2 separate regions of the Homo sapiens genome follow, and region 1 is linked to region 2. The links come from fine-mapping of genetic effects on gene expression. A gene starts in region 2. The other region holds a variant in brackets. All regions are shown on one strand. Distances are from middle to middle. Region 1 has its middle 22 kb from the start of METRNL. Region 2 holds the start of NARF (nuclear prelamin A recognition factor).

Evidence for each region. PIP is the estimated chance that this variant, and not a neighbour inherited with it, causes the effect.
Region 1: its variant is the best candidate, but not a certain one, in a credible set for the expression of NARF in ileum (GTEx, PIP 0.61).

Annotation. Positions count from the first base shown.
Region 1 is chr17:83,099,544-83,103,918 of GRCh38, reverse strand. No RefSeq gene overlaps it. Among named protein-coding and RNA genes, the nearest start is that of METRNL, 22 kb to the right of the region's middle. The variant G/A (reference allele first, on the strand shown) is at 1,890.
Region 2 is chr17:82,457,099-82,461,425 of GRCh38, reverse strand. NARF (nuclear prelamin A recognition factor) reads right to left here and starts at 2,685. Exons shown (of 11, transcript NM_012336.4): 1 at 2,596-2,685; 2 at 1,354-1,434. The coding sequence starts at 2,622. It overlaps NARF-AS2 (NARF antisense RNA 2), which reads left to right and starts at 2,907. Exons shown (of 3, transcript NR_184099.1): 1 at 2,907-3,753; 2 at 3,878-3,988. RefSeq lists enhancers at 1,931-2,763, 3,197-3,346 and a silencer at 2,347-3,166.

The sequences.
Region 1 (4,375 bases), 640 kb before region 2:
AGAGGGGCGGAGCCCCGAGGAGACGGAGATCCAGAGGGGCGGGGCCCCGAGGAGACGGAGATCCAGAGGGGCGGGGCGCCGAGGAGACGGGGATCCAGAGGGGCGGGGCGCCGAGGAGACCGAGATCAGAGGGGCGGGGCGCCGAGGAGACGAGATCCAGAGGGGCGGGGCCCCGAGGAGACGGAACTCCAGAGGGGTGGGGCGCCGAGGAGACCGAGATCAGAGGGGTGGGGCGCCGAGGAGACGGAGATCCAGAGGGGCGGGGCGCCGAGGAGACTGGAATCAGAGGGGCGGGGCCCCGAGGAGAGGAGATCAGAGGGGCGGGGCGCCGAGGAGACGGGGATCAGAGGGGTGGGGCGCCGAGGAGACGGAGATCCAGAGGGGCGGGGCGCCGAGGAGACGAGATCCAGAGGGGCGGGGCCCCGAGGAGACAGGGATCCAGAGGGGCGGGGCGCCGAGGAGACGAGATCCAGAGGGGCGGGGCCCTGAGGAGACGAGATCCAGAGGGGCGGGGCCCCGAGGAGACGGACATCAGAGGGGCAGGGCCCTGAGGCGATACCATGGCCCATGGGGTCAGTGCCACAGTCCTCCCCAGGCTTCCTTGCGTGACAGCCCTGGCCCGAGGCATCCAACCCATGGGCTTCCATCTTCACAGCCAGAGGGAGGAATGAGCAGGGCTGGTCTGCAGCAGGACAGGTGGATCCTGGGCCAGGGCGTTAAACTTAGCAACTGTTCCAGGGCCCCCTGGAGCAAGCGACCTTCCCATAGCAACCTCTCAGACCCCTGGTGCTCGGTTTTGGGAAGCAGGTGGCACATCTGTGACAACAAGGTCCAGCAGCCACCACCCAGGCCCATCTTCACACCTGGGATCCCAGCCTCTGCCCAGCCTCATGAGCGAAGCTCACACCACGCAGCAGCTGTCTTGGGCCACCCAAGGAGCCACAGCTGCCCTGGGAGCTGTGGCTGAGTTGAGGGCCATCATGCATGGGGCCGACAGGCCACGGGGCCCCCCTGGGAAGCACCCACCTGCTCATTTCTTTTCTTTCTTTTTTTTTTTTTCTTGCTCTATCACCCAGGCTGGAGTGCGGTGGTGCAATCTCAGCTCACTGCAAGCCCCGCCTCCTGGGTTCACACCATTCTCCTGCCTCAGCCTCCCAAGCAGCTGGGACTACAGGTGCCCGCCACCAGGCCCGTCTAATTTCTTTTTGTATTTTTAGTAGAGACGGGGTTTCACCATGTTAGCCAGGATGGTCTCGATCTCCTGACCTCATGATCTGCCTGCCTCGGCCTCCCAAAGTGGTGGAATTACAGGCGTGAGCCACCGTGTCGGGCCCCACCGGCTCATTTCTAACCTTCAGTATCGGCCACAGCAGCGTTTGAGGTGGAATTCTACATTTTTATGGTTTCTCAGTAAAGCAATGCTTCCTGCCCTTGCTTTGGGCTGAGCCCCTGGGGTTTCAGGGCGTCTGGGGCCTGTGTTGGGACTGGGCAGGGGTCCACACTATCTTCATCTGAAGTGTTCTCGCCAGTGGACGTCAGCCTGACCTCCCATCCCTCCTGCCGCCCTGCCACCAAGCTCCTTCCCTCTGCAGCTGGGGCCACTCCCCCTTCCTACTGCCCTGAAGCTCTTCCTGCTGGACAGGCACCAGGCCATGGTGGGGAGTGTCCCTGGACGAGGTATCCCAGATGCACCCCAGTCGTGGCTGCATCTGGGCCCTCCCTGGAAGTTGCCCATTCTCTGTCCTCGGTGTCCTCCGCCCTCAGCAAACACCACAGGACTCTCCCAGACAGCAACCCACGTGCAGCAGCCATGACCGGCACTTCCCAGCACTGCCGGGCCACTGCCTGGAGTACACACCTGGCCCCAAGGGGCTGTTCCGTGGCAAGGA[G/A]CACGCCCTGGGAGGCGCCAGCCGTTGGGAAATCAGACAGAGTCTGCTCCACCGGGAAAGCCACACGGAGCTCAGCTGGACTCAGGCTCGGGGGAGGAAGCTCAGGCGCCTGATCGCTGGGGCAAAGCAGCTGGAGGCCGGAGAGAAGGGCAGGCCCTGACAGCAGGCAAGGGTGGCCTGCACCCACCAGGCTGGTCTCCTCACCGGACTGAGGGCCTCTCTTCCCCAGGCACCCACCAGGCTGGTCTCACAGGACTGAGGCCCTCTCTTCCCCAGGCACCCACCAGGCTGGTCTCACCAGACTGAGGCCCTCTCTTCCCCAGGTCCCTGGCCGGCCTCCATGTCCTGGTCCCGGGCCGGCCTCCATGTCCTCCACCACTCAGCCTCAGTGGATCACTGGACAGACTGCAGGGAGTCTTTGCCAGCCTTGGGGTTTTTCCTCCCCAGGTTCCAGTTCTCCCACAAATGCCCTCTGCTCACCTCTGAGAAGTACAGGAAGAGCCGTGCTCAGAGGTCCCACTGGAGACCCCTCCAAGGCACGGCAGGTGCCAGCAACAGCAATGCCAGGGCACCCTGCCCAGAAGCAGAGCCAAGTGAGCAAGGCTGGGGGCTCTGGAGGTCCAGACAAGACCCTCTGGGGGCAGGAAAGTCAAGTGTCCTGGTCGAGGTCACACAGTGGCTGGGACCAAGGACCCCTCTCCACGACCCTGGGAAGCACAGCTGCCCGTGCAGAAGTCCAGACCCTGGTGGAGCTCGGCTCGGCCCCACGGCACGGGAGAGGCAGAAGCTCCAGCAGTGAGTTCTCCCTGAGCTGCAGCTGCAGCGAGGCATCCCCGGCACAGCCCCACGGCTCCAGGTGGAACCGGGAGGAGGAGGAGCCTGGGGACCACTCAAGAGTAGCCGGGCGGGGAGCACAGCCCCTGCAGCGTCTCCTGGGCAGAAGCAGGTGTGGTCAGGACGAAGGAAGCACCTGGTCTGTGGCCCAGACAGTGTCTCCTTCTATCCACATCCGGAGCGACACTGAGGTGGGCTGAACAGAGGCTCCGGTGGACAGAGACCCGTAGGCACCGCCCAGCCTGCCCCTGCTCAAGCTGCCCGGGTCGCTTCTTACAGAGCCCCACTGTGCTGCACTCACATCATCTCACAGGTCCTGCCACCCTTGTCCACCTGCCCACAGACCCGCCACCCCCCTCACGGTCCTGCCAACCTTGTCCCCCCTCCCACAGACCCGCCACCCCCCTCACGGTCCTGCCACCCTTGTCCCCCTCCCACAGACCCACCACCCCCCTCACGGTCCTGCCAACCTTGTCCCCCCGCCCACAGACCCGCCACCCCCCTCACGGTCCTGCCAACCTTGTCCCCCTCCCACAGACCCACCACCCCCCTCACGGTCCTGCCAACCTTGTCCCCCCGCCCACAGACCCGCCACACCCCCTGTCCGGCCCAGGGAAGTGCAGTGCCTATGGGTGGGACTGGCAGACCCGCCGGCCGACACCCAACCTGGCAGCCGCTGTGGCCAGAGACCAGTTATCTACCATCAAGAATGTGCCCTTGACTATTTTTATGTCATGTGTGTTTTCTTTCTTGCCTCAGTTTTTAGTAAAGTTCCTTGTTGGGCATTTTAGTCCAGCTCAGCAGTGCTAAAAGGGGAAAGAAAGGGGCGTTGGGCTGTTTCTGGGCGGAGAGTGCCGGGCAGAGTGGCTCCCGGCCCCTCACCCTTCCCTGGGCCCTCCACCCCTCCCGCAGCGCCCCTCCCCCTCACCGGAGCCCCCCGGGTGTATTTTTGTTTCTTTGTTTTTTAGCATATTTTTCATCTTGCCTCTGATCAAACTGATGGCTAGAAAAGTATGTGGCTTGGTAAGCAAAATTCTTCTGAAGAAATTCCAGAGCCCCCGGCCGCCGTGACCTCACCGCCCCGACACCAGCCAAGCCTCCGCTGTCTTTATAAATCACGGCCCGCCCGGCTGGCAGCACACAGTGGCCCAGTGTTGACTCCGGATTCCTCACGTTCCCTGGCGTCCCCCGTGGGGCCCCTGCCCCGGCGGTCGGGGAAGCAGAGCGGGCAGGCTGGGGGTCCCTGGGCGGCCATCCCCTCCCTGCTGGGTGAGCCGGCGTCCTCCCTGCAGGTCTGCGTCCCCACGTCCCGCCCCTGCCTTCCGCCCCTCAGAACCCCTGCCATAGCCGCACTGCCACGACCTCCTGCTGTTAGTGGCCGCCCCCACCTCCGGAGCCCGACCCACTCTGCTCCGAGGCTGCTGGGATGGGCACCCACCTGTAACCAAGTGTGAATAGCAGAGCCGGTGCTGGCTGCAGGCCAGACACCAGCAGGGCTGATCAGGCCCCAGGCCGCTCCTCAGGTGGGGGCAGGACCCAGTGTGCACCGGCTGAACCGGTGCCCACTGCAGGCTGGCACAGGGGCTGCACTGGGAACCAAGGCTCTGCCCTTCTCCCAGGACTCAGTCTCTGTGGGAGACCAAGACCCACAG
Region 2 (4,327 bases):
TGGTCAGGCTGATCTTGAACTCCTGACCTCAGGTAATCCACCCACCTCGGCCTCCCAAAGTGTTGGGATTACAGGTGTGAGCCACCATGCCTGGCTGTAAAATCACATTCTTGAGAGCCAGGCTCAGGTTATGTATCCAATAAACAGAGACCATAGCTACTAGCTAAGGAGAATTTAAAAACAAGAACTGAATTAGAAGAGAGGCCAGGTGCAGTGGCTCACGCCTGTAATCCCAGCACTTTGGGAGGCTGAGGCAGGAGGATCACTTGAGCCCAGGAGGTCAAGACCAATCTGGGCAACATAGTGGAACTCCATTTCTACCAAAAAATAAAAATAAAAATAAATTAGCTGAGCATGGTGGTGCATACCTGTAGTCCCAGCTACTAGGGAGGCTGAGGCAGGAGAATCACTTGAGCCTCAGAGGTCAAGGCTGCGGTGAGCCATACAGTGAGCCACTGCACTCCAGCCTGGGTGACAGTGAGACCCTGTCTCAAAAGGGGAAAAAAAAAATTAAAAGAAGAAATCCAGTATTACACCACGTTTTCTTTGTTCCCAATGCAGTGTGTTTTGGTGTAGTGTGTTCTGAGAAGACAGGCCTTGTGCCACTGATGGACTGTCTCACACATGTCTTTATTAGCCCCTTCAAGTTTATTTCAGTCTCGGAGACGGAGTCTTACTCTGTTGCCCAGGCTGGAGTGCAGTGGCGCGATCTTGCCTCACTGCAAGTTCCGCCTCCCAGGTTCACGCCTTTCTCCTGGCTCAGCCTCCCGAGTAGCTGGGACTACAGGCGCCCCCCACCACGCCCGGCTAATTTTTTGCATTTTTAGTAGAGATGAGGTTTCACTGTGTTAGCCAGGATAGTCTCAATCTCCTGATCTCATGATCCGCCTGCCTCGGCCTCCCAAAGTTCTGGGATTACAGGCATGAGCCACCACGCCTGGCCTATTTCAGTCTTTTTTTTGGGACAGAGTCTCACTCTGTTGCCCAGGCTGAAGTACAGTGGTACAATCTCAGCTCACTGCAACCTCTGTCTTCCAGGGTCAAGCAATTCTCCTGCCTCAGCCTCCTGAGTAGCTGGGATTACAGGCGTACACCACCATACCTGGATAATTTTTGTATTTTTAGCAGAGATAAGGTTTCACCATGTTGGCCAGGCTGGTCTCAAACTCCTGACCTCAAGTGATCCGTCCACCTCGGCCTCCCAAAGTGCTGGGATTCCAGGCGTGAGCCACCATGCCCGCGTACTTCAGTCTTCTTTAAAGCAGTGATGTGCACGGTGCTGTGAGCCCCCAAAGAGAAAAACAGCAGCAGTAGTTTACTCTGGGCTGATACAAAACTGAAAAATCTACTTGCCTCTCCATTTTCCTGGGCTGGACTCGGTGCATCGGCTGACACATTCTCTTGGTCATCAGTTTTTGTTTTCTTACTACATTCCTTAAAAAAGCAAAGGAACATTATCAATGAACTTTTACTTCGTCTCCCTTAAGAAAATGTGCACATTCTGACCAATGAAGCTCATGTATTTCTATCCTTTCTTTTAGTTTATTTATTTATTTTTTTAGACGGAGTCTCGCTCTCACCCAGGCTGGAGTGCAGGGGCGCAATCTCGGCTCACTGCAGCCTCCACCTCCCGGGTTCAAGCGATTCTCCTGCCTCGGCCTTCTGAGTAGCTGGGATTACAGGTGTGCGCCACCACACCCAGCTAATTTTATATTTTTAGTAGAGACTGGGTTTCGCCATGTTGGCCACGATGGTCTTGAACTGCTGACCTCAGGTGATCCACCCGCCTCGGCCTCCCCTCCCAAGGTGCTGGGATAACAGGCTTGAGCCACCGTGCCTGGCCTTCTATCCTTCTAACCCTTCTAGTGAAACAGGTACTGAAGGACACACACACATCTCTATTGTTTACAATAATAAAAAAGCAGAAGCAACTGTAGCCTTCACCCCACAGGCGAATTCCCCTGGACACAGGTGTACTTAGAATAGGACGCAGCCACCACCGGGGATGAACGACCCATGGAATGTTAGGAAGCCTCCTGCCACGGCGTCACGCGCAGAAGTGCCAGCCACAGAGCAGCATCCACAGGAGCCCATTCCGGCAATAACAGCTACAAAACCCCCCTGCGTGCGCTGCGCGGTTGTTGCCATGGCCTGGAGACAACCGCGGAAGGCGCCGGTCAGCAGCCGTCACCCGCTTCCGCCCCTGCACCGGCTGCTCGGTGACCCTCAGAGGGGCAGGTTCGAAAACGCCTAAAACCCTCTCGAAACGCTTCTGATCATTCCCGCCACGACCGCTGTTTACTCGGACTGTGGTGCGCGGCACGAGAGGCTCGGTCTCCGTGCGTTTCCGCGCTTCGCGGGCGTGGGAAAGATGGACAAGTTCAGGGAGAACCGCGAAGACCGAACCCGCCCTGCAGAGCGCAGCGGACCCCGCGCCGGCCGCCTCCACGCCGAGCGGGCCCAGGGTGCCGAGGCCGGGGGCGCCTTGAAGAGCCCTGAAGCGAGCGAGCGGCGGGCCCGGACCGCCAACCTCGGCCGCCCAGAGCCCCACAGGACAAGCACCAGGCGCGCGCCTCCCCGGCCCGCGGCGCTCACCTTGCGCGTGCAGTGCTCACACTTCATCTGGAGCGCGGCGGGCGGGAGGCCGGGCGCCTCAGCCTCAGGGAAGCACCGGGAGACTGGGACACCACTGCCCGCCGCCCGCGGCCCTTTGTTGTCCTCCCCCGACGCGGCCTCACCCCCAACGGCCGCGCTCGGCCAATGAGAGCACCGGGAGAGGACAAGCCGCACCCCTGGGCCAATAGGATTCCCCACCCTTACGGCTTTGCCTAGGCCAATGACAGTGTCGGGAAGGGGCGGGCCAGGCCCCAGAGCCAATCGGAGCGCGCGGGGCGGACCGCAGGCTCACTCCACGTACGGCGCCGGGGGGACCGGGTCCTTGCGCCGGTTTCCGCTTCTCGTGGGTCCTGCGGCGGCGGCGGCGGCCAAGCGGCGTTCACCAGGGAGTCGGTGAGCGCGCGGACTGTCCCGAGGCCAAGCTGGGGCCGTTCCAGGGTGCTCGGTCCGGTGGTCACGGGGCCTGGAGGCCCCTGGGCCCGCGGAGGCCGCGGCCGGGCTCTGTCAGCCAGCTCGGCGTTGGACACTCGCCTTACTCGCGGCTCCTAACGGGGCGGGCCGGGGGCACAGCCCTCGTCCGCCGCCATTGCCACTTGACGTCGTGTCACGTAGGCTCGGCGGAGTAGCAGCGCGCATGCGCGGCCTGCCTGTCAGTAACCACGTGATGGACCCGGAAGCCCGAGGGCAGATGCTAAATGATGGCCATTTGACATTTGCGTGTGTTCACTATGGATAGTTTTACCAAGTACATTGATTTGGGCCCTTACAGCTTACAAAGTAAAGATAACACTTACTCCTCCAAGAAATTGATTTCAGCTAAGCAAAACATTGATACAGGGCTATAATGGAAGTGTTGGACTCATAAACGTTTTATGAAATCAGTGTGTGTGTATTACAGAAATCAGAAATGAGAAGTAAGAACATGTCTGGGAGAGTGTGACATAAGAAAAATAACTTGTAGGCGTATTTAACAGACAGCAGCAGTTCTCAGGATTCCCCATGTTAGAGCCTTCCTTCCTGTCCTCTGAGAAATGAAAATGAAATCCAAAGACCCCCAACTGACTACACGAACCCCCTACTGGCTAAGGAGATCCCAGGGTTGCCTTGAAGGCAGTTCTCAGCCATGACAGATGGGAGGTGAGACACCTGTTATTAAGGCCAACCCTTGGCTAACTACCATTAGGTTTTCTTGGCTAAGAGCTTAACGGAAACCAGCGCTTTCGAAAGACTCCACCGCTGATAACAACTCTCTCATTTGCAGTTTCGGCCCAATTGACCAGTATTCCTTACTGATAAGAGACACTGACCATGGAGTGGTTCTGGTGAGATGACATGACCCTCGTGAAGGGGCCTGAAGCTTCATTGTGTTTGTGTATGTTTCTCTCTTCAAAAATATTCATGACTTCTCCTGTAGCTTGATAAATATGTATATTTACACACTGCACCTCATAGATTCCTGTTCCCTTTGCCCCTCCCTGGAAGTGTCTGTTTCTGGCTTCTGGCCAGAGGCAGTGCTTCCCTGTCTGTCAGAATGGCCACCCTGCAGGCTGAAACCCTTTATGAGAAGTAAAGCTCTCCTTTCCAGATTTATGAATCTCATCATTCTTCAGCTTGCCATTGCCCATCGGGTTCTTCCTGCCCACTGCACAGACAAAAAGTCAATTCATCAAGATTGCAGCAGGCCGGGAAAAGAGTTTAATTGACACCTGGC